5 linked regions of the Homo sapiens genome follow. The protein of the gene in region 1 interacts with the protein of each later gene in a pairwise test. Each region holds a gene or a part of one and is shown in the gene's direction. Other genes may lie near its edges.

Evidence for each region.
Region 2: the proteins of PRKAG1 (region 1) and PAICS interact in a two-hybrid assay, tested with the Homo sapiens proteins (one large-scale study listed by BioGRID and IntAct).
Region 3: the proteins of PRKAG1 (region 1) and AP1S3 interact in a two-hybrid assay, tested with the Homo sapiens proteins (one large-scale study listed by BioGRID and IntAct).
Region 4: the proteins of PRKAG1 (region 1) and CBS interact in binary tests that used the Homo sapiens proteins (3 or more experiments, as listed by UniProt).
Region 5: the proteins of PRKAG1 (region 1) and TNFAIP1 interact in binary tests that used the Homo sapiens proteins (3 or more experiments, as listed by UniProt).

What each region holds. Positions count from the first base shown.
Region 1 is NC_000012.12:49,004,866-49,009,486, reverse strand, and holds part of PRKAG1 (5'-AMP-activated protein kinase subunit gamma-1), read left to right. Parts: intron 1-97; exon of another isoform or gene 98-178; intron 179-887; exon of another isoform or gene 888-1,061; intron 1,062-3,634; coding exon 3,635-3,744; intron 3,745-3,894; exon of another isoform or gene 3,895-3,943; coding exon 3,944-4,025; intron 4,026-4,095; coding exon of another isoform or gene 4,096-4,122; coding exon 4,123-4,181; intron 4,182-4,321; coding exon 4,322-4,367; intron 4,368-4,468; coding exon 4,469-4,523; intron 4,524-4,621. UniProt on the Homo sapiens protein: AMP/ATP-binding subunit of AMP-activated protein kinase (AMPK), an energy sensor protein kinase that plays a key role in regulating cellular energy metabolism.
Region 2 is NC_000004.12:56,455,809-56,460,429, forward strand, and holds part of PAICS (bifunctional phosphoribosylaminoimidazole carboxylase/phosphoribosylaminoimidazole succinocarboxamide synthetase), read left to right. Parts: intron 1-3,563; coding exon 3,564-3,730; 3' UTR 3,731-4,621. UniProt on the Homo sapiens protein: Bifunctional phosphoribosylaminoimidazole carboxylase and phosphoribosylaminoimidazole succinocarboxamide synthetase catalyzing two reactions of the de novo purine biosynthetic pathway.
Region 3 is NC_000002.12:223,830,242-223,834,862, reverse strand, and holds part of AP1S3 (AP-1 complex subunit sigma-3), read left to right. Parts: intron 1-4,621. UniProt on the Homo sapiens protein: Subunit of clathrin-associated adaptor protein complex 1 that plays a role in protein sorting in the late-Golgi/trans-Golgi network (TGN) and/or endosomes.
Region 4 is NC_000021.9:43,065,821-43,070,441, reverse strand, and holds part of CBS (cystathionine beta-synthase), read left to right. Parts: intron 1-1,826; coding exon 1,827-1,933; intron 1,934-2,037; exon of another isoform or gene 2,038-2,385; coding exon of another isoform or gene 2,386-2,664; exon of another isoform or gene 2,665-3,808; coding exon of another isoform or gene 3,809-3,917; intron 3,918-4,064; coding exon 4,065-4,199; intron 4,200-4,621. UniProt on the Homo sapiens protein: Hydro-lyase catalyzing the first step of the transsulfuration pathway, where the hydroxyl group of L-serine is displaced by L-homocysteine in a beta-replacement reaction to form L-cystathionine, the precursor of L-cysteine.
Region 5 is NC_000017.11:28,338,373-28,342,993, forward strand, and holds part of TNFAIP1 (BTB/POZ domain-containing adapter for CUL3-mediated RhoA degradation protein 2), read left to right. Parts: intron 1-1,035; 5' UTR 1,036-1,149; coding exon 1,150-1,354; intron 1,355-1,936; coding exon 1,937-2,106; intron 2,107-2,864; coding exon 2,865-2,954; intron 2,955-3,031; coding exon 3,032-3,084; intron 3,085-3,874; coding exon 3,875-4,070; coding exon of another isoform or gene 4,071-4,192; intron 4,193-4,621. UniProt on the Homo sapiens protein: Substrate-specific adapter of a BCR (BTB-CUL3-RBX1) E3 ubiquitin-protein ligase complex involved in regulation of cytoskeleton structure.

The sequences.
Region 1 (4,621 bases):
CTGGAGGTTTCAAAAATCAACATGAGGAAATTTCCCAGAAAGGAGAGTTAAAAATCAACAAAGTAGAAAATAGGAGAGAAGGTGCAGTGGCTCATACCTGTAATCCCAGCACTTTGGGAGACTGAGGCGGGAGGCCAGGAGTTCAAGACCAGCTCAGCAACACAGCAAGACCCTGTCTCTACAAAAAAATAAAAATTAGCCAGGCATAGTGGCATACACTTGTAGTCCCAGCTACTCAGGAGGCTGAGATAGGAGAATTGCTTGAGCCCAGAAGGTCAAGGCTGCAGGTGAGCCATGATCTCGCCATTGTACTCCAGCCTGGGTAACAGAATGAAAGCCTGTCTCTTTAAAAAAAAAAAAAAAAAAGGAGAGGAAAGATTCCAACAACCCACAAAACAAACAAACATTTAAAGGATCAGTCTAGGAGGTCCAGTATCTAAATAGGAGTCATAGAAAAAGAAAAATGGCAACACAGAGGGAAGGAAATAATTGAGGAACTAATTCAAGAACATTTATTGGAACTTGAGGACATTAGTTTTCATATTGAAAGGACCCATCGAATATTCAGCACAATGGATGAAAGTGACCCACCCAAAGCACAGTCATCCTGAGATTTCAGAACACTGGAAACAGAGATCCTATGAGTTTTCAGAGAGAGGAAAAAAAAGTCACATACAAAAAGTCAGAATTGCCTTGGACTCTCAACAACACCAGCAGCTAGCAGGCAATGGAGCAATGCCTTCAACATTCTGCAGGAAAACACATTCCAAGCTTTCCTGCAGATTCTCTATTCAGCCGAATTATAAATCCAAGGATGAGGGTAGAATAAAGATATCTACAGGCTGCAAGGTCTCAAAAACACATACCTCCCATGCACCCTTTCTCAGGAAGCTACTGGAAGATGTGTTCCACCAAAATAAGGGAGTAATCAAAAAAGATAAAAACGCGATATAGGAGCACCAGTAGAGGACAGACGTGAAAGGGGTACCCAGGATGGTGATGAAGAAAGATCCCAGGATGACAGCAGTGCACACCAGACAAACCAGCCCAGATTTGAGCAGGTCAGAAGGCTCCAGGGAGATTTCTTTGGGTAGTTTAAATTTTGATAGACTGTCTAATGCTTTTGAACCTCTTAAAAGGAGATTTAAATAGTTGGTGAAGCATTTGGGGGTTGGATTAGTTATAAGAATTATACATAGAAAATTAAACAAAAGGACAAGACATTAACTCCAGGTAAAACAAAGTTGTGAAGGAAGAAAAAAAAATCAGAGTTTACTATTTGGCTTATCTCTGAATAATAAATATTCAGTCAAAATGATTTAAATACTGGCCGGGTGCAGTGGCTCATTCCTGTAATCTCAGCACTTTGGGAGGCCAAAGCGGGCAGATCACATGAGGTCAGGAGTTCGAGATCAGCCTGGCCAATGTGGTGAAACCCTGTCTCTACTAAAATACAAAATTTAGCCGGGCATGGTGGCGGGCACCTGTAACCCCAGCTACTTGCGAGGCTGAGGCAGGAGAATCGCTTGAACCTGGAAGGCTGAGGTTGTAGTAACCTGAGATCGTGCCACTGCACTTCAGCCTGGGTGACAGAGCAAGACTCCCTCTCAAAAAAAAAAAAAAAAAAGATTGAAATACGGATATAACCAACATTATGGTTTAGCTCCTGGAATAATGAGGAGAATGGGAAGTACGTGTTTGTGGTGGAGTCCTAGTAGGAGAGAGAACTAGAAATTCTCATCTTCTTTGGTAGATAGATGATAAATAATGCCCCAAAATGAAAAAAAAAATGGAAACTAGCAATACAAGCATGTTATTTAAGGACATAGAATTAAGTACCAAAATAATCAACTAAGGTAGATAGATGTTCTCATCTCTGGGGAAGGGTAGTACAGGGAGGTGGGTTGCAAGGAGTGCAATTTTTTCTTAACAAAATTTGTAAAACTGTTGGACTGATTTAACTGTGTGTCTATATAACTTTGGTTAAAAAAATAAATATTAAAAACCAAATTGATTAAAGACTTAAGAGCATGAAGTTTGGAAACAGATCTGGGTTTGTTTGAGTCTTTCTTGCCACTTATTAATGGTGTGACCTTGAGCAGTTTATTTAACTACACCTATTTTCTCATCTGAAACATGAGGACATTACTTACACATTTGTTGTAAGGATTAAATTATGTAATTTTTTTTTTTTTTTTTTGAGACGGAGTCTCACTCTGTCGCCCAGGCTGGAGTGCAGAGGCACAATCTCGTCTCACTGCAACCTCCACCTCCTGGGTTCAAGCAATTCTCCTGCCTCAGCCCCCTGAGTAGCTGGGACTACAGGCACGTGCCACCACGCCTGGCTAATTTTTATATTTTTTTAGTAGAGACGGGGTTTCGCCATGTTGGCCAGGCTGGTCTCAAACTTCTGACCTCAGGTGATCCACCCACCTTGGCCTCCCAAAGTCCTGGGTTACAGGTGTGAGCCACCACGCCCAGCCAATGTAATTTATTTATTTATTTATTTATTTTTTTGACACGGAGTTTCACTCTTGTTGCCCAGGCTGGAGTGCAATGTTGCGATCTCGGCTCATCGCAACCTCTGCCTCCCGGGTTCAAGCAATTCTCCTGCCTCAGCCTCCCGAGTAGCTGGGATTACAGGCATGCGCCACCATGCCCGGCTAATTTTGTATTTTTAATAGAGACAGGGTTTATCCATGTTGGTCAGGCTGGTCTTGAACTCCCGACCTCAGGTGATCCTCCCACCTTGGCCTCCCAAAGTTCTGGGATTACAGGCATGAGCCACCACGCCCAGCCTCAATGTAATATTTTTAAGTGCACGTAGTATAGTATGTAGCACATTCAAGCTATTATTTTGGGAGATTACTTCCCTAGTTTAGAGCAAGCAATTAAAATCACAGGAATAGAAAAAGGTAAACTAGCCAGGATCTCCCATTTGTCTAGAGTAGGTGGGATGATTTCTGATTTACAGGGTGATCCCAGAATGGACTATCAGGGTGTTTTGAGCCAGGTTGATTGAGCACTGGGCTCCAACTTATTGTTAATGAGAAATGGCCCAACTTGGACCATGACTTTCCCATTTGCAGGTCTTAGAATAATTTTTTTTTTAATTGAGACAGGGGTTCGCTGTGTTGCCCAGGCTGGCCTCGAGCTCCTGGGTTCAAGTGATCCTCTGCCTCAACTTCCTGAGTAGCTGGGATTACAGGTGCTTGCCACCATCCCCAGCACAGTCTTGGAAGAATTTTAAGAAGCTTACTTCATTGAAAAAAGAGGAAAGTGAAAATGTGCTAAGTATATGAAAGGGAAAGCTTGGATTAAAGATGAGAAACATTTTTAGACTATAACATGTTAAAGAGAGATACTATAGGCTTTATGTTTTAGTCAACTTCTTTTACCTATAGGGACCAATAGATAAAGTCTTAACCTGGAGACAGGGGTTGGATGAAATGGTTTCTAAGAGGTTTATCCAGGTTTTGTGGAAACAATAGGAACAAGACAGATAAAATAAGGGGTCTTATTAAAAAATAATGCTCTAAATATTTGAGATACTAGAACACTATTTTGTTTTCTGTCTCTTTTGATTGGGAGTTTTTATGTGGAAGGAAGCTACTAACTATCCCACCCTATGCAGAGACCCCAGAATCCAACAATAGCGTGTATACTTCCTTCATGAAGTCTCATCGCTGCTATGACCTGATTCCCACAAGCTCCAAATTGGTTGTATTTGATACGTCCCTGCAGGTGGGTGAAATCCTCTTTTCCCTTCCCCCTTTGGAGCCTGTGGTTTAATACCTCTCATCCTATCTCATCCTAAGGGTAATATCCTTATCCTTCTGTGAAGTTAGTCTCATGTTTTACCCAACATGCCCAAACACTGTTCTTTTTTTACAGTCCTGCCCCTGTGGATTTGCCTTTATGATTATTACTGTCTTGGCTACAGGTGAAGAAAGCTTTTTTTGCTTTGGTGACTAACGGTGTACGAGCTGCCCCTTTATGGGATAGTAAGAAGCAAAGTTTTGTGGGTAAGCAAAAGTTTCTGGAACACAATATTATTGGCATCTTGTGCTGGGCAGGGAGACAAGCTTCAGGCAGTGCTGAGGGCTCTGTCTTGTCCTCTAGGCATGCTGACCATCACTGATTTCATCAATATCCTGCACCGCTACTATAAATCAGCCTTGGTAAGGAACCTTAACCCAATGACCAAAATCACTTTCCCTGCCCTAAATCCCTCATTCTCATTTCTTTTTCTCCAAGCAAGCCACGAGGGCTTAAGGAAGCAGAGAGATCAGGTCTCAAATTCTGTTGCTTCTGCTTTCAGGTACAGATCTATGAGCTAGAAGAACACAAGATAGAAACTTGGAGAGGTATGTAGAGAATTGGGGTTATAAAAGGATAAAGGGATGGCGGGTTTCTGGGAAACACTTTTCCATGGTGGTATTTTGTGACCCATCCCTTTTCCCTTCAGAGGTGTATCTCCAGGACTCCTTTAAACCGCTTGTCTGCATTTCTCCTAATGCCAGGTGAGTTCCAGTTACCCATCTGTCCAAAAAGCGGAAGAGATTTTGTCATCAGCCTAGCTAATGCCCTAGACACCCAGGGAAAGGGGAAGAAGAGAGAA
Region 2 (4,621 bases), on another chromosome or scaffold:
AGGATCTTTTGTCTGTTTTCATTGTTCTTAAATTTTACACAGATGTGATGTGCTGAGTCTGTTTTCATTATGGACTTTCGGTGAGCTCTTTTAATCTGAAATTCTGATTTCTTAGTCCCCATTTTCCTTGAATTATTTAATTTTCATACCCCTCCATATTCTCTCTTCTCATTTTTGAATTTGAATAAATTTGGGCTTCCCTTGATTTCTATTCTACTTGTTTGTCTTGTTGGTATACTTTCTGGAATATTTCCTAAATTTTACATTCCAACCCTTCTATTGAGTTTTTCTTTTTTTTCTTGAGACGGAGTCGGGCTCTCTTGCCCAGGCTGGAGTGCAATGGCGCAATCTCAGCTTACTGCAGCCTCCGCCTCCCAGGTTCAAGCGGTTCTCGTGCCTCAACCTCCTGAGTACCTGGGATTATAGGTATGCACCACCACGCCTGGCTAATTTTTGTATTTTTAGTGGAGATGTGGTTTCACCATGTTGGCCAGGCTGGTCTCGAACTCTTGACCTCAGGTGATCTGCCTGCCCTGGCCTCCCAAAGTGCTGAGGTTATGGGCGTCAGCCACTGTGCCCGGCCTTCATTTTGGATACAGGTGTTTTTTGTTTGTTTTGACACAGGGTCTTGCTCTGTTGCCCAGGTGGGAGCACAGTGGCATGATCATATCTCACTGGACCCTTGAACTCCCCGGGCTCATGTGATCCGCCCACCTCAAACTCCCAAGTAGCTATGACTACAGGCCCACACCATCACACCTGGTTAATTTTTTTACTTTTTGTAGAGATGGGCACTCCGTATGTTGTCCAGGCTTGTCCTGAACTCCTGGACTCAAGCAATCTTCCCACCTCAGCCTCCCAAAGTGTTGGGATTGGGTAGGAACCACTGCCTCTGGGGTTTTTTTTTTTTTTTTTACACAATGTTTTTATATTTCTTTTGGTTTTTGTTTTCTGGGTTTTTGTTGTTGTTGTTGTTTGTGTTTGTATGTTTTTAAATTTCCAAAAGCTCTTTTTTGTTCTCTGGAGATGATTATAGTCTGTTGCATATAGTTACTTTCTTCAGCTGTCTGGTAATCCTTGGCTGTTTGCGCTTTTAAGAGTGGAATACTATAAAAAACAATTGGAAACTTCAAGTGGGTGGTCCGTGTCAAAATTGGGCTTCACTGTGGGGTGTATCTGGTAGGGATTGTTCTTCAAACAACCCCTCACATTAGTGTCTAGGTATTTTCTTAAGTGTTGACCAGAATTACTCAGAGAACAAAAGTTGTCTGTGCCTGGCGTCCCCTAGTTCAAAGACGCCAAGACTGAAGTCTGTTTTACCTTCAGAAAAATTAAAGGCCTGGCTTGGTGGCTCATGCCTATAATCCCAACACTTTGGGAGGCAGAGATTGGTGGATTGCCTGAGCTCAGCCTAGGCAACCTGGCGAAACCCCATCTCTACCATAAATACAAAAATTAGCTAGGCATGGTGGCACACGCCTGTGGTCCCAGCTACTTGGGAAGCCAAGGTGGGATGATCACTGGAGCCTGGGAAGTTGAGGCAGCAGTGAGCCGTGATTGCACCACTGCACTCCGGATGACAGAGCGAGACCGTGTCTCAGAAAAAAATAATGTTTAAAAAGAAAAAAATTGCTACAGTGCTTTAAAGAGGCAGTTACTCAGGTAGATGGAGTGGGGAAGGAGATTTGAGGACCTAGCTTCTTCTTAGACTTCGAGTCAGTCATCTTCTTCTTAGTCCCTATTCCCTTCCAAAGGTATCTGGTGCCACTAATTTAGTCAGTCACCCTTTGGGGGAGTTCTGTAATGTCAGTCATGTTGCTTCTCATCTTTCCCTGCTTTCAGTTTAGAATTAAGTTTTTTTTTTTTTTTTTTTTTAAATGGAGTTTCGCTCCTGTTGCCCAGGCTAGAATGCAATGGCGCAACCTCCGCCTCCCAGGTTCAAGCGATTCTCCTGCCTCAGCCTCCCAAGTAGCTGAAATCACAGGCATGCACCACCATGCCAGCTAATTTTGATTAAGTTTTCTTGGTCTGCTAACTTAGCTACCACTGTGTTTGCCTTTCAGTTGCCAAAATGTTACTGCTGTTATCTGGCCTTGTGTGTTCATGCCTATTTCCTTTACTGTTTTTATAGGCTCTGAGAATTAAATTTTGTGCCTAAGCTATCTTTAACAAGATGTGATTATACAAATGTCTCAAGCTAAAAATCAGCGGCTACAAATAAAGCTGTAACCAAATTTATGCCAGAGGAATTGTATAGATACCCATGGAGCTTACAAAAGGGGAGCATGATAAGCAAAAAATTGGCAGTTTTTATAGTAGTGTTGTTTCAGGAGTGACAAATAATCTGGAAGACTTGTACATAATGATCACTAGAATTGGGGATAATCTTTTGAGGAGTAGTTTTACAGTAACCTGTGTAAAATCCTGAAGACCGCCCATATTTCTCATCTCTGATGTCATGCTCACTAGATAACTTTTTTTTTTTTTTCTGCAATTTAAGCTATTCTTTTACCAGAAAGGGAGTCCTGGGCAGGAGGCACAGGTTATTTCAAATATTAGAGTGGAGCACTCTACCTAGCGTGCTAACAATAGTGGTTGACATTCTTGGAGCACATACTGTGTACCAGGCAATGCTCTAAGCACTTTATCTATGTTATTAACTCATTGAAGTGTCACATCAGGTAGCTACTAGTTAAAATTCCCTTCTCACAGAAGAGGAGAATAAATTAACGTGAAGTAACTTGACCAATACCACATATTAAGGGGTGGAGCTCCATAAAATAACGTATTAATACAAATTAGTAAATTGGCCTTGTGATTTGTATTTGACTCTGTTCTTGTGGATAATGGGAGTCAAAGAGCCTGATGAATTCCAAGAATATCGGGAAAATCGAGCTTTTGGAACTATAGCAAACACTAGACATAATAGTACCCCTGATTCTAGCAAACACTAGACATAATAGTACCACCTCAAGACACTCTGCCTGAGCAGACATGTGGCCCCTAGGATGTTACTTTTTTATTCTGCTGTCTTGGATCTTATTAATATTTATTTATAACTTGACATTTCCTAAAATTATTCTACGGATTTGACTTTTACTGCTCAAAAATATTAAAATAGTTCAAATGCAGATAGAAAGATTAGCTAGAAAACTGTCAAAACAACATAGCTCAAGTTTGTCTAAGAACAGGTACTTTTGTACTCTTACCTTGACCCTTATTTTGCTTCAGTTGTTCTTCGCCAGGGATTGAAAGGGATAGTGTATGTGAACAGAAGTTTCAAAAAGATAAGTTTCTTTGTAAGTGAGTTCTATAAGAAGGGTGATAGATGATATATATAAAATATCTCTTCATGGCAGGTAATACTGACTGCTTTTCCTCTTGTAATCACTTTACCACTCCGGTATTAAAGACAGTTGTACAGATTCTACTTTAGATTAGAATAATGCAGTAGCTTTTTATTTTCTGTGGCAGGACTGCTCTGAGTATAAAATTTTTTGTAAGGTTGTATTTTCATTACTAATTGAGCTCAATTTTCTGTCTTTTCCTTGCTGAACCAATAGGTCTTGGCTGTTCAACCGTACTTTCTCCAGAAGGATCAGCTCAATTTGCTGCTCAGATATTTGGGTTAAGCAACCATTTGGTATGGAGCAAACTGCGAGCAAGCATTTTGAACACATGGATTTCCTTGAAGCAGGCTGACAAGAAAATCAGAGAATGTAATTTATAAGAAAGAATGCCATTGAATTTTTTAGGGGAAAAACTACAAATTTCTAATTTAGCTGAAGGAAAATCAAGCAAGATGAAAAGGTAATTTTAAATTAGAGAACACAAATAAAATGTATTAGTGAATAAATGCTTCTCTAGATCCATATTAATAAACATGAGCATCTAACCCCTCCTTTCTTAGGCTAGACACCAAGATATTTCAGCCAGCCTTTATCATTCCTCTTACTTTATCCTTTTTCCTTAAGTATTGGTGGTCACTACTATTGAGTTTCTTCCTTAACACTGATTAAATGATCTTAACTCCCTCAGCTAAAACTGGCATTACTGACTCCCAGCTATATTTCTCCAGACTTGCATTTTTTTTTTTTTTTTTGAGACAGGGTCTCACTGTCGCCCAGGCTGGAGTGCAGTGGCGTGATCTCAGTTCACTGCTGCTTTCCCTCCTGGGCTCAAGCAGTTCTCCCACCTCAGCCTCTCGACTAACAGGGACTATAATCTTGCAGCACCATGCCGAGCTAATTTTATTTTTTGTAGAGATGAGCTCTCACTATGTCACCCAGGTTCGTCTCAAACTCCTGAACCCTAGTAATTCTCCTATCTCAGCCTCCCAAAGTGCTAGGGTTACAGACATGAGCCACTGTGCCTGTCTAGACTTGTACTTTCAACTGTCCATTTCTCCCTGTCTGTCCCATGGGCACTCATGAAAAAACAGAATGCTCCCAACTTTATTCATCTTCCAAGCCTGTAGCTCTTGGTATACTCACTGTTGCAAGTCAGAAGCTTGATTTCATCATTGATGTTTTTCTCACGTTTCACATCTCACTCATCACCAAGTCATGTTGGTGTTAATTTCTGATTAACCCTTGAATTTACCGTCTTCTCATCCTCTGTA
Region 3 (4,621 bases), on another chromosome or scaffold:
TAATTTTTTTTTTGCTTTGGAAAAATATTGTTATTGGTCATAAAAATGTTATTTATGTTTAATGTGTAATAGGTTTACTATTGTTTTTTCTTTTTATTTATTTATTTTTGAGACAGGGTCTCTGTGTCGCCCAAGCTGAGTGCAGTGGTGTGATCACAGCTCACAGCAGCCTCAACCTCCTAGGCTCCAGCAACCCTCCTACCTCAGCTTCTTGAGTAGCTGGGACTGTAGGCATGTCCCACCATGCCCAGCTATTTATTTATTTATTTATTTTGAGACAAGGCTTGTTCTATCACCCAGAGTAGAGTGCAGTAGCATGAACATGGCTTACTGCAGCCTCAACCCAGTGGACTCAAGGCATCCTCCTACCTCAGCCTTCCATGTAGCTGGGACCACAGGTGTGTGCCATCATGCCCAGGTAATTTTTTGATTTTTGTATAAATGAGGTCTTACTTTGTTGCCTAGGCTGGTCTTGAACTCCTGAACTCATGTAATATTCCCACCTTGTCCTCCCAAAGTGCTGAGATTATAGGCATGAACAATTGGGCCCAGTGGAATTTTTTACTTTTTGTAGAAATGAAGCCTACCTATGTTGCCCAAGTCGTATTATTTTAAAATATGTTAATATCTATTTTTTCATTTTAATTTCAAATACAATAAATATCAGTGGATATAACCCACATAAACAAAAAGGTCTTTGGGATTGGCAGGCGGATCACCTGAAGTCAGGAATTTGAGACCAGCCTGATCAACATGGAGAAACACTGTCTCTACTAAAAATACAAAATTAGCTGGGTGTGGTGGCGCATGCCTATAATCCCAGCTACTTGGGAGGCTGAGGCAGGAGAATCGCTTGAACCCGTGAGGTGGAGGTTGTGGTGAGCCAAGATCGTGCCATTGCACTCCAGCCTGGGCAACAAGAACAAAACTCCATCTCAAATAAATAAATAAATAAATAAATAAATAAATAAATAAATAAAAAGAGTGTAAAGGCATCCAAAAAGTTTCATAATCACTGTCCCGGAGTTTAACAGGTACCATAAGTGAATGCGTGTGAAGGCGCTTCAAACAGCTTTGCCATTGTAAATGCTCAGTAACCATCACCTCTCCTCTGTTATTACCTTCAAGTTGTAAGAAAGAATTGGCGGCCCTCGCTAGTGCCCAGCTGCTCTGAGACCTTTGTTGAGGCTCACTGTGTAACTCCCTGTCTTTCCTGCTGCTTCATTCCTGACTTTTGCTGACTTTTATGCTAGGAAACTGGTAGATGCTTACTGGCAGATCTAGGCACCTAGTACTTTACACACAGAAAATGGTTCTTGATTCCATGGTGCCAGTGACCCTGGTTTCTGGCACAGAGATTTCATATCTGGTGCATGTTGGGACTGTGTTTGTATCTGGATCACACTGTTTGAAGCAACTGTGTACTCCATCTCACCTTTTAGAAATCTCTACCTTGGAAAACAGTGTTAGGGCTATTGCACTTCAGGAATCCCACGAGCTGAGCCCAGTGTGTTTAAAAAGGCTTATGGGGCAGAATGTACTGTTGAATGGTTGGCAATGAAGGAGGATTATGTTGTTTATGTATGTATGTATGTATGTATGTATGTATGTATGTATGTATTTTGCCTTTAACAAGATAGCTGTGGGGATGTATACAGTGACATTTGAAATGCTTTGGGGGTACTTTTAATAAAAGCACAAGTGGACTTTGATGTATGTAGTCCATGTGCTTCTGAAAAGTTGAGGTGACACAAAACCACATTGTGAACAAAACAGTAGAGCCACCCATTGAAAGAAACTCAAATGTTGATCCCTTTGGAAACATGAATAACCGTCTTTTTGTGTTGCAAATTCCGTTCTCATAATGTATGTTATTTATGTAAAGTAGGATAGATTTATGCTAAAAAAAAATCAAGGATTTTTTTTGGGTGTACGATTTAAAATCTGACTTGAGAGAATTTACCAAACAGAACTGGAAAGCCATTTCTTATTCAGAAGATATTTAAGTTTGAAATAGTAGGAGTACACCCTTCTCCTAAAAAAAAAAAAAAAAAAGAAAAAAGAAAAAAAATTCCTTTGTTCATTTTAATCTCAGGGAGTTGTTGAGGGTGAGGGTGGAAAAACCGAACTATGAACCTGTAGGTCCTGCCACGCCCCCTTCCCCTTCTGTATCAATTTTATGTTCTGAAGCTTGAATGAATTGTAATAAGCATGTAATGATTTTGGCAATTTAAGTTCCAGTTTGAGGGTGAAGCGGTCTATTACACTAATGAGTGCTTTCCTCCTCGGAGACTTGGTCTAGGCTGCTGGCCAGCAGTTAGTGTAAGATCGAGGGCTTTGGGATCAGGGGAGAAATGACCCTTTGTGGTGTTCAGTTGTCCCAAGAGGGCTCTCCTCCACTGGCCCTTCCCACAGGTCTCCCAAAAACACCAGTGAGACTTGTATTTACTCCTCACCAGGATTGTTACTACCGAGTTTCTATCACTCGTTTTGTTTGTTTGTTTGTTTGTGGTGAGTATTGTCAGCTGCTGATAACTTTTGTGTGGCATTTTGCCAACAACAGCTGTAAGGAAGCAGCACACTGTGTATTTGCTGAACGGTGTTGTCAATGTCTGCCCTTTTGGGTCCCGTGAATTATTTCATTTTAAGACATAATGATAAAATTACTCCCCTTTCCAACACACACACACACACACACACACACACACACACACACACACACACACAGAGAGAAAACTCCTTTAATAATCCCCAGAATAAGTCCTTTTTTTGATTTTTTTTTTTTTGAGACGGAGTCTTACTCTGTCTCCCAGGCTGGAGTGCAGTGGCACGATCTCTGCTCACTGCAAGCGCTGCCTCCCGGGTTCACGCCATTCTCCTGCCTCAGCCTCCTGAGTAGCTGGGACTACAGGCTCCCGCCACCATGCCCAGCTAATTTTTTTGTATTTTTAATGGAGATGGGGTTTCACCGTGTTAGCCAGGATGGTCTTGATCTCCTGACCTCGTGATCTGCCCGCCTCAGCCTCCCAAAGTGCTGGGATTACAGGCATGAGCCACCGTGCCCGGCCAACAGAACAAGTACTTCTTGATGTCTTCATGAATTGTCCTTTTGATATTGTTTTGTTGTTACGATAGCCAGTGTTTCTCCCAGAGACCTGAAACTTCACTGTGGTTCTGTGGTTCATTTCTTCCCTGGGGCCTGTCTTTTTCTCTCTCAGAGTCTCCCTTTCTGGTATACCTAGTTTTCCCCGATACTTTCTCTGTTTAACCTGAAGTATCCAGGAAAACTCCCTTTAAACCATTTGAAGCTCCCCCATAATCTATGACATGAAAGAATGTACACAAATGTCAGAGGCAAATGCTCCTAAATTCTCTCAGTGGCATATGAAACTATCCAGCCAGCACCCTGACTAAGGAAATGTATTTCTTGACCGGGCACGGTGGCTCACGCCTGTAATCTTAACACTTTGGGAGGCCAAGGTGTGTGGATTGCTTGAGTCTGGAAGTTCGAGACCAGCCCAGGCAACATGGCGAAACCCCATCTCTAGAAAAAATACAGAAAGTATTAGCTGGGCGTGGTAGTGCACCCATGTAGTCCCAGCTATTTGAGAGGCTGAGATGAGAGGATCACCTGAGCCCAGGAAGTCAAGGCTGCAGTGAGCCATGATTGTGCCACTGCACTCCAGCCTTGGTGACAGAGTGAGATCCTATCTCCAAAAGAGAAAGGGGCCAGGGTTGGAGGCTCATGCCAGCACTTTGGGAGGCTGAGGAGGGAGGATTGCTTGAGCCCAGGAGTTTGAGACCAGTGAGACTCAGTCTCTATTAAAAAGAAAAAAAAATGTATTTCTTGTATCGCTGCTAGCAATAAGGTAAATTAAAAATCTTAACAATGAAAAGGGGATACTGAAAATCATTCAAGTTAGAAATAGAATGTTATCGACAATCATGAGGAAACTGGCCTCTGCCAACATCCCTCTTCTAAAAACTTTCCTACAGGCATCTCTGGGCTCTGAAATTCCTGGCTCTCAGTAGCTTCTGAAACTTTAGTCTTTCAGTGCGATGGGGCATGGACCTAGTACAGTCAGTTAAGAATAAGTGCACAAGAGATTCTGTATTTAATGTCCTTGTTGGATCTTCTCTAACAGGATTTTCTGGGCTGGTAAGAAATGATTGGTGTGGGTTGAAGCTCAGTGGACACTGAAATGCTACAGGAGACTTCCTTCCACACTGGGTATATCAAAGATGAGGAATGAAGGCATGGTTTGCAAACTGGGGTGCCCATACCTTCTGCGTACTCATCCTTGTAGACAGGGGTTGTCAAGGGATAAATTTGACTCATCCCTGGAGTATTGTTCAGAATGATAATTTTTTTTTTTTTTTTTTTGAGAGAGAGTCTCACTCTGTCACCCAGGCTGGAGTGCAGTGGCGTAATCTCGGCTCACTGCAACCTCTGCCTCCCAGGTTCAAGCAATTCTCCTGCCTCAGTCTCCTGAGTAGCTGGGACTACAGGTGCATGCCAACACGCCCGGCTAATTTTTGTATTTTTGGTAGAGATAGGGTTTCACTATGTTGGCCAGGCTGGTCTTGAACTCCTGACCTCAAGTGATCTGCCTGCCTCGGC
Region 4 (4,621 bases), on another chromosome or scaffold:
GAGAGCAGTGGGTGAGAGGCCCGGTGAGGTCGGGAGTGGCTGCTGGAGGGTGGAGTGGGCAGGGAAGACAGGCCCGATTCCTGAGGGCTCCGTGAGCTCCTAACTCTAGGGCATGAGAAGGAGACGATGCCCTCCAGGTTGTAAATGGCGTTGCACCTGCACCTCACATACTGGCCTCATTCATCCTCCGAAGACACCCCCATCCTGAGACGCAGAGCCGACGCCGCTTGTCTCCAGTCGGAGGGCCCCTGAGAATAGTGGCGTTGCGGGGAGGTGCTGCAGAGGTGGGTCAGGAGTTGGAGGTTCATTCTAGGACAGTGGCGTGTCCTCCCAGGAGCCTCTTGGGCTGTGGAAGTGGGAGTCCTTGAGATAAGGGGCTCCAGGGCTATCCCTGCAAGTCACATCCTTTTTCTTGCTAAGCGCTCTGGGCCTGGCCCTGATCACCTCTGCAAACTTCTCAGGTAACTTCACAGCCACCGAGGCCCAGTGCTGAGTCAGCACACCTGCTGCAGGGAGGCGGGACTCTTCCCGCCTGGCTGGCCAGATGCCCGAACTGAATTAATGAACTAATCCCCGGCGCTGTCACCCTGGGGCTTGGCTTTCCACCTGGCCCTGGCTCTCTACACCTGCCAAGCCTGGTTCCCTTCTGCCGAGAACTGCTTCTGAGGGAACCTCCCTGGCCCCTGTACAGTTTGGGGACCTGGCAGGACTGCCTTCTGCTCCCCGGGAAGGGTGCGATTGGATTCCAGCTGCTCTTGTTGGCGCCTGTTTTGGCCTTCAGGGTAGCTCTCCCTGCAAATGTGGCACTCCCTCCATGGCACAGGACCTCTGGGAGCTGGGTTCACCCCAGGTCTAAGGGTCGCCTCCTGGGGGGCAGGACCCAAGGACCCTGGCTGTTCAGCAGGTGACTGTGCTGAAGAGGGGGCCCAGGGTTAGCCACGGGGTGTCATCGGAGCTGCAAGGCCCAGGGAGGGGTTGCGGGTCTGGAGACCGCTGTAAGCCATGCGTGTTCCCAGATGAGTATGTGGTGAGCTTGGTGCAGATAGATAGGGGGTGTCATCAGCATCTCCCTGGGGGAGGATGGCAGGGGCATGAGGGCCATTTAGGAAACCACCTGGACCAGGGTTTGAGGGTTTACACAGCCAGATGCTGCAGGGCAGGGCATCACGAGCCTGGCCGACAGCGCCTCTGCCGGGGCTCTGAGTCTGCCACGTGCCTGACATTTTCTGTGCAGGGCTAGACATCCCGCCTGCGCTTTGCAGCCATTGTCCCTGGTCTAAGGAGTCTCTGCCCTGACACTTTTTTGCTTCCTATGGTCACATGCTGAGAGATGAAAGGAAATGTCATCTCCAGTAAAGCCTTTCTGAAAAGGTGGACCTAAACCTTTGTTTTGGAGTCAGTATTTGCTTATTTTAACTTTTTTATTTGGAAATAATTTACTACTCACAATAAGTGGCAAAAATAATAGATCCTTTGTACCCTTCTCCCAGCTTCCCACTAACAACATCTGCCACGACTGTAGGTTCATTTTCAAACCTGGGAAGCTGGCATTGGTGCAAATAAACCACAGGCATGATTTGCTTTTTATAGATTTGTATGTCTAAGCATGTGTGTGTATGTGTGTTTCAGGCGTGTGTGTGGGATGTGTGTTAGGTGTATCTGTGTACAGATTTGTGTAACCACCACCCAGATAAAGCCAGTTCTTTTTTTTTTTTTTTTTTTTTTTTTCCAGTTCTTCGAGTGTTGATTTGTGTAAGACAATGTCTGCCAGGGCTGGTACTATTTTTTTTTTTTTTCCTGAATAATTGTGGACTCCTCTGTTTCAGGGCAAAATCTCCAAAAATCTTGCCAGATATTCTGAAGAAAATCGGGGACACCCCTATGGTCAGAATCAACAAGATTGGGAAGAAGTTCGGCCTGAAGTGTGAGCTCTGTGAGTGCCCTGGCTTTGGAGAGGGGCTTCCTCCATCTACACTGGGCTCCGTGGGCCTGGGGGGTCCTGGGGGGTCCTGGGATGGATCCCTTAGGCAAGGCCCTGGGATCAGAAAACTCGCTGGTTAATGAGTGGCCAAGAACATATCAGCTTAAGTTTGGGAAAAACACACAACAGGGCATTGTGTCAGAGGGTGACCAAAGTGACTCCCCAGCAGATGGACCAGGGAACGAACAGGTGACCTTTGAACTGAGGCCGGAGTGGAAGCAGCGAGGGTGTGAAGGGCCGGGTGAGGGTCAAAGGCAGAAGCAAGCAGGTGGGGAGGGTTAGCGTCATGCCTGCTAAGGAGCAGTGGACGGGTCCTAGCACGTGCTGTGAGCCACCCGCTGTCCAGGGAGCGGTTACCTCTGTCTTGCCAGCTTCGTGGGGACAGATAGTTCAGCTCATCATTTATGAGACAGAGAATGGGAATTTGGAGGGTCTGTGGCTGGCCTCGTCCTGGGTGCGCAGGGGGTCACCTGAGGTGTGGTCTGAGGCCTCCGGGGAAGGGCATTTCTTTGCAGGACGCAGTTTCCAGGCTCAAGAACGTGGAGGGAATTCCTAAGGGTCGCTCTTCACCAAGAGCGCAGAGCCCTGGTAGACCTCAGCATCGTCACAGAGAAAGCTGTGGGTGCAGAGGCCTTGGGGACAAGGCGGGGACGGAATTTCGTATTTCAGATGACCAAGGCCAAGTGAGTTCGGAGGGAGGCAGGAAGGGTGCCGCGGAGAACCCCGCGACAGGGCCAGATGGAGGGGGTGGAGTTCGAGTGGGAAGGAGAGGGAACCAGTAACATGGCTTGGGACTTTTTCATCCTGAGATGCTCTAATGTCCCAGCCGGGGGACCTGTGAGAGCTGGGGCAGGCGCTGGGGGAAGGAAGTCAGGGGTCGGTGCGTTGGGAACCGATCGCCGATTCACAGGAGGGGCCTCGTGGGAGCCTGGCCCTCCTCTGCCCCCCTCTAGGGAAGGAGATCTCGGAGCTGCAGCAGAGCAGCCCCCTTCACAGAGACCCCCAAGGCAGCAGGGCCGGCTCTGTGCTCATTTGTCAGACAATAGGGACCCTTAACTCGTACGCAGCACGCGTGGCTGGCTCACTGTGCTCCGTACAGGATGACGTCTAAACTTGGTGGTTGCCCTTGAAGTAGGTTTTGGAATGCCCGTTTTACAGACAGACACACCGAGGGTCAGGTTGGTCACGTGGCTTGCCGGAGGCCACCAGCTCTGATTTCTGCTTCGGAGCTGGCCCCCAGGCGCTAGTGAGAATGATCTAACTGAGGGTTTCACAGTATGGGACCCAGAGGGGTCCGAGAATGCAGGCCTGTAGAGGGCCAGACCCCGAGAGTCCTCCCCACCACACACAGCGCCTCGTCCTGGTTCTAGGGGCAACACCTGTCTGGTGGTTGCTTTCAGAAATTTTGAGGTGCTGCAGGCTGGTCCCAGGTCCCTCAAATCACATTTCATGCAGCCCAGTCTCTCGCTCTTAAAAACTAAATATTTTTAAGAGCTGGAGAGGGAGAGAGGACTTGCAGTAAGGAAGGAAGTGCAAGTGAAGGCCTTGGCCTTGTGCGGGAACCGCGCAGGGAGCCCTTCCCCGGGCAGGTGACGCCCCACAGGGGGAGGAGGACAATGGGAGGCTGTAGGGAGAGTATGCGAGTCCCCATCCGATGGGGAAGCCAGTGCTGTGGCTTCAGGACATCAAGCTGCTTTGGCAGGGGCCGCTGGGTATGGCTGGGCATAGGGGCGTAGGGGACCCAAATCCAGGCGCCTGCCCGCCACAAGCCCAGCTCGTGGGTGGGGGGACGGGGTTTTCTGCGGCGCCCCCCAGTGAGGGCTGCTTATGCCTCTCTGGTTCCCACAGAGTTGCTCAGCGCCCTGCAGGACCGGTAGGATGGGCTGCAGGGGGAGAAGCTCTGATAGGCTAGTGCCCAGGTGCAGGTGTAGGGGAGGTGAGTGGAGAGGTGGCAATTTTTCAGAACCCACAGACCCCCAAGCCCGTCCCCCACCCTGGGGTGTATCAGGTAATGGGGGGGTGAGCAGGAATCAATGGGGGGGTGGTCAGGGGGTCCCCTCTGTGATTCATCTCTGCCTCCCAGTGGCCAAGTGTGAGTTCTTCAACGCGGGCGGGAGCGTGAAGGACCGCATCAGCCTGCGGATGATTGAGGATGCTGAGCGCGACGGGACGCTGAAGCCCGGGGACACGATTATCGAGCCGACATCCGGGAACACCGGTGGGTGCCAGGCCCAGAGGGGGTGGCCAGGGCTGGCTGTCCCCTACCCATGCCGAGCCTGCCGGGACCCGGGGGGGATGGCTGAGCTGCAGCCGCATGTGCTGGCCCGCCTGGCCGCCTGCTCCCTGGCATCTTGCACCCGCTGCCGGCCTGTGTCCCAACCTAGCTTCCTTTGACCAGCATTCGGGGCCAGTGCCGATGCTCTCGGGGCGATGGCACCTGGCAGTGCCTGGCACACAAGACGAGCACCCGGAGTCTGCTCTTCCTGTGCCTGTGTACCCGGCTGGGCCTGGAGGAACCAGATCTCCTGTCCTGCGCCGCTGCCTCCTCCTCCTTGACGTGTACCTTTTATTTCTGCCTCTGGCAGCCTCTCTCCCCCTGCACTTGAAGGCAGAAGCAGCCATGTTGGGCAATTTTGGAAT
Region 5 (4,621 bases), on another chromosome or scaffold:
AAAGAAAGGAAAACAGCCATCCTATAGCTGTTCTTCCCTGAAAAATGGTGACAATTTCAGGAACTTGGGACAAGGCTGGTGCCAAGAAAGGGGAAGGTCAGGAAGCCCCAGCCGAAGCCCAGGTAACCTGCACCAAGAACACTGGCCGGCACCCCCGACCCTGGCTTACTGCATTCTCTCCTGAAGCTGCTTTTACTTTCCTTCCTGAAGCCAGACTCTCGGTGGTGCTCAAAATAAACACTGGCACAGACTGCTCTGGAGGCTGGAATCTTTAGAAAGGAAGTGCATCCTGTCCCTCTGGCTCCTGGGAAACTCCTAGACTGGCTGGATTCCCAGTAGGTTTGGTTGGAAGTCTGGGATCCTGGGAACCTTGACAAGAAAGTAACTGGAATCTGACTGGTAGATCTCTAGGGTGATCTGTTCCTCTGGCCCTCTCTAACTGGTTCCATGGGTTTGCTTGTCTTCCTCGCTGCCCTGAGTGGAGCTGAGTCTCAGGGAGGCTGATGAGGTGACCAGGGCAGGAGTCTGGGAGACTGCCTCCAGCCCTGGTTCCTGCTATAGTAAAAATGGCAGGGAGGCCAGACGCGGTGATTCATACTTATAATCCCAGCACTTTGGGAGACTGAGGTGGGCGGATCGCCTGCGCTCAGGAATTCGAGACCAGCCTGGGCAGCATGGTAAAACCCTGTCTCTACCAAAAAAAAAAAAAAAAAAAATTAGCTGGGTGTGGTGGTGTGCACCTGTGGTCCCAGCTACTCAGGAGGCTGAGGTGGGAGGATCACTTGAGCCTGGGAGGCAAAGGCTGCAGTGAGCCGAGATGGCACCACTGCACTCCAGCCTGGGTGACAGAGTGAGACCCTGTCTCTAAGAAAAAAAAAAAAAAAAAAGAAAGCAAAATGGCAGGGACTTAGCCTCTGCCAGGGAGCAGTGCTTGGGCTTGTCAGGGAGAGAATGAGTACGGTCGTGTTTCTGCTATTGTCTCCTCCTGGGCTGTCTCAGCTGGTTCGTGTCTTCTCTTCCCTCTCCCATGTACAGCACTGAGATTATGAGGCTCTGGCCTCCACTGGCCACTCACTCGTGACCCTTTCCACCACGGCGGAGCCTTCCAAGCCTACCTCCTGCCGTGTGGTGATCTACCTGCAGCGGGAGATGTCGGGGGACACCTGCCTGTGCCCAGCCTCAGGGGCCAAGCCCAAGCTCAGTGGCTTCAAGGGAGGAGGGTTGGGCAACAAGTATGTCCAGCTCAACGTGGGCGGCTCTCTGTACTACACCACTGTGCGGGCCCTGACCCGCCACGACACCATGCTCAAGGCCATGTTCAGTGGGCGCATGGAGGTGCTGACCGACAAAGAAGGTGAGGCACTGGGGCTGCCGCTCGGGGTGGGGAGGGCAGGAGGAGTTCCCAAGGAAATGACCAGATCTAGAATTCAGTCACTTTTCCTCTTCACTTTATGTAGGGTGTCTTCACCTGGAGTCCCTAGTAGAGCTTCAGAATTCTGTGAAATTGTATATGGAATGCTGTGTTTATGCATTTTCCAGGAAGAAGAGCCATACTTTTAAAATATTTAAATAGGACAAGATTCTCATAGGAGCCGTCACCTTAAGACTGGGCAGCGGGCAGAAGGCCGGCAGTGGCTGGTGGTTTCTGTGTTGGGCTGGGCCTGGTACCCTGAGCCTAGGCCCCTGTGGCTTCTACAGCCTGGAGGGCTGTATCCCCCGTGGGATGTGCCAGTTCTGGGTTTCAGAGAGGAAGGGTGAAGAGCAGCCATGGGCCTGAGTGCTAGAACCTCCATCCCCGCCTCTGTCACCCTGCGTAAGGGCTTTGTGCTCGTGGACCCCCTTCCCTGCCACCTGCCGCCAGCTTGTCAGGTGGCCTTTGCCTGCCTCGGAGGTACCTGGCGGCAAACTAACCCTGTAGGGCCTTCTGCACCCCTAGGCTGGATCCTCATAGACCGTTGTGGAAAGCACTTTGGCACCATTTTGAATTACCTCCGAGATGACACCATCACCCTCCCTCAGAACCGGCAAGAAATCAAGGAATTGATGGCTGAAGCAAAGTATTACCTCATCCAGGGGCTGGTGAATATGTGCCAGAGTGCCCTGCAGGTACATGGGTGGGGCGGAGCAGGGCGGGCAGATGAGGTCAGGAGTTGCCCCCTTCTTGTGGGATGGAGGACTCTGGTTCCTGGCAGGTTGTGTGGGAGGCGTGGTTGATGAGTGCAAACCTAATGAGACAAGTGAGATGCCACCCAGGCCCACCAACCTGGCAGCCAGGTGTTCACACTTGGCAGCGTGAGTAGGCCCTGCTTCTGGTTTCTATGCTTTGCTACCCGGATTTTAGGGGGTTTTTCTGTTTTTGCTTTTGTTTCTGTTTTTGTTTTTGTTTTTTGAGACAGGGTTTCACTCCTGTCACCCAGGCTGGAGTGCAGTGGTGCGATGTCAGCTCACTGCAACTTCTGCCTCCTGGGTTCAAGTGATTCTCGTGATTTGGCCTTCAGAGTAGCTGGGAATGCCAGCATGCGCCATGGCACCCAGCTAATCTTTGTATTTTTTGTAGAGATGAGGTTTCACCATGTTTTCCAGGCTAGTCTCGAACTGCTGGGCTCAAGTGATCTGCCTGCCTCAGCCTCCCAAAGTGCTGGGATTGCAGGTGTGAGCTACCGCACCCGGCCTGGATCTTGGGTTTTCTAACTGGGGGTCTGCTTTCCAGCTGGCAGTTTCTATTGTCAGGGGCCTCATGATCTGTATCTGACACTTCCTCACCAAGCAGCGGGTGGCCATGGCAGAGGGGCTCCAGAGGTATACCTCGATAAGCCTGGGAAGCAGAAGATCCTAAAGAGGGTTCTCTGTTCTGTGTCGCACAGGACAAGAAGGACTCCTACCAGCCTGTGTGCAACATCCCCATCATCACATCCCTAAAGGAGGAGGAGCGGCTCATCGAATCCTCCACCAAGGTACCAGGACCTCTGAGGGGTGCGGGCCGGGGATGCCAGTCCCCTGGCCTGGCCCCTCACTCTGAACTCCTTCACAGCCCGTGGTGAAGCTGCTGTACAACAGAAGCAACAACAAGTATTCCTACACCAGGTAGGGTGCGTCACAGGGCTCAACAGACACTGGGCAGCAGACCCAAGGAGTACTGCCTGTACTCCCAGCACGGTCGGCGTGGGTCTGGGCCTGGGTCTTGGAACTGGCTGTGCCAAGTTGGGGAAAAACAGAAAGTAGAAGGGAAATTGGGACAGAGGCCTTTGGAACTCAGCAGGGTGCCCTGGCTGGGATATAAATGATTGAAGGTGAAATGCGCCCTCAACGTGTATCACGAAGGCAGCATGGCAGGTGTTTTCACACGTGTCATCCTACCGGGTGGAGGGGATGCTAGGAGGCCGGTGAGCTGGGAGTCCCCCAAGCCAGCCTGTGCAGTTCACACTGGGCCGATTCCCTCCCCACACCCTCCAGGCCATGTCCTCTCCATAGGCCACAGTTAGGTAGACGCAGGTGGCTGCAGGTTCAGAGTCCCAAACCCTCCCTATGATTCCCTGTGGCCAGGCATATTGCCACTGTCACCCCCACAGTAAGGGAAGGAATGCCTCCCACTGACATAGCAGCCTTGTCTCCTTCCTTCCAGGGTTAGTGAGGGGAGACCTCCTTCCTCAGCTGTCCCTACTTTGACTTAAAACCAACTGAGTTCCTTTTCCTCACAGGCCCCCCAACCCAGAGGGTACCCTATGATCCTTTCTCTCCTGGCCCCCTGGCATCTTGCTTTCATTTCGGCAGGACAGGATGGGGGAAGGGAGGGAGGGGAGGGCCCCACTTGTCTAGCACCCTCCCTTGGACTGGAACCTCACTCCCAGCCGCTTGGCCCTCATGTTTTTTTCAGCAACTCTGACGACCACCTGCTGAAAAACATCGAGCTGTTTGACAAGCTCTCCCTGCGCTTCAACGGCCGCGTGCTCTTCATCAAGGATGTCATTGGTGACGAGATCTGCTGCTGGTCCTTTTATGGCCAGGGCCGTAAGCTGGCAGAGGTGTGCTGTACCTCCATCGTGTATGCCACGGAGAAGAAGCAGACCAAGGTGTGGGGGATTGCCCCTGCCTGGGTAGGGGAGGACACACACCCACTGTGCGGGGGACGTGGTCGGGCTGTGACCAGCACGGAGCAAAAGGGGCATGGACTTGGCTCTTTTTTCCAAACACGGTAATGGTGCTGGGCAAGGACAAGGCCAGAACAAGGGGTGTGGGGAATGGACGGGAACTGCTTTGTTCCTGACAGCGCAGGGCAGGGGCCGTTGACCACCAGGAAGTAGCCTAGTACAGTGGGAAGGACTGGGTCTTTGAAGTTGGCCCAATTCAGGTTTGAACGCTGGCTCACACCACTTGCCAGTTTTCTGACTTTGGATAAGCCACTTAAGCCATCTGGGCCTCAGGTTCCTCATTTGCAGACATGGGGATGATAGTATGAATTTAACGAGATATGAAAATGATACAACTCTTTGGAGCAGCAGTGTGGTGTAGAAACAGCTTGGGCTTTCGTGTTAGAATGCTGTTCAGATCTCCTGTCTGAGCCAGGGACACAGGTGGGCACAGCACTTGAGCCCAGGAGTTCAAGACCACCCTGGACAACATG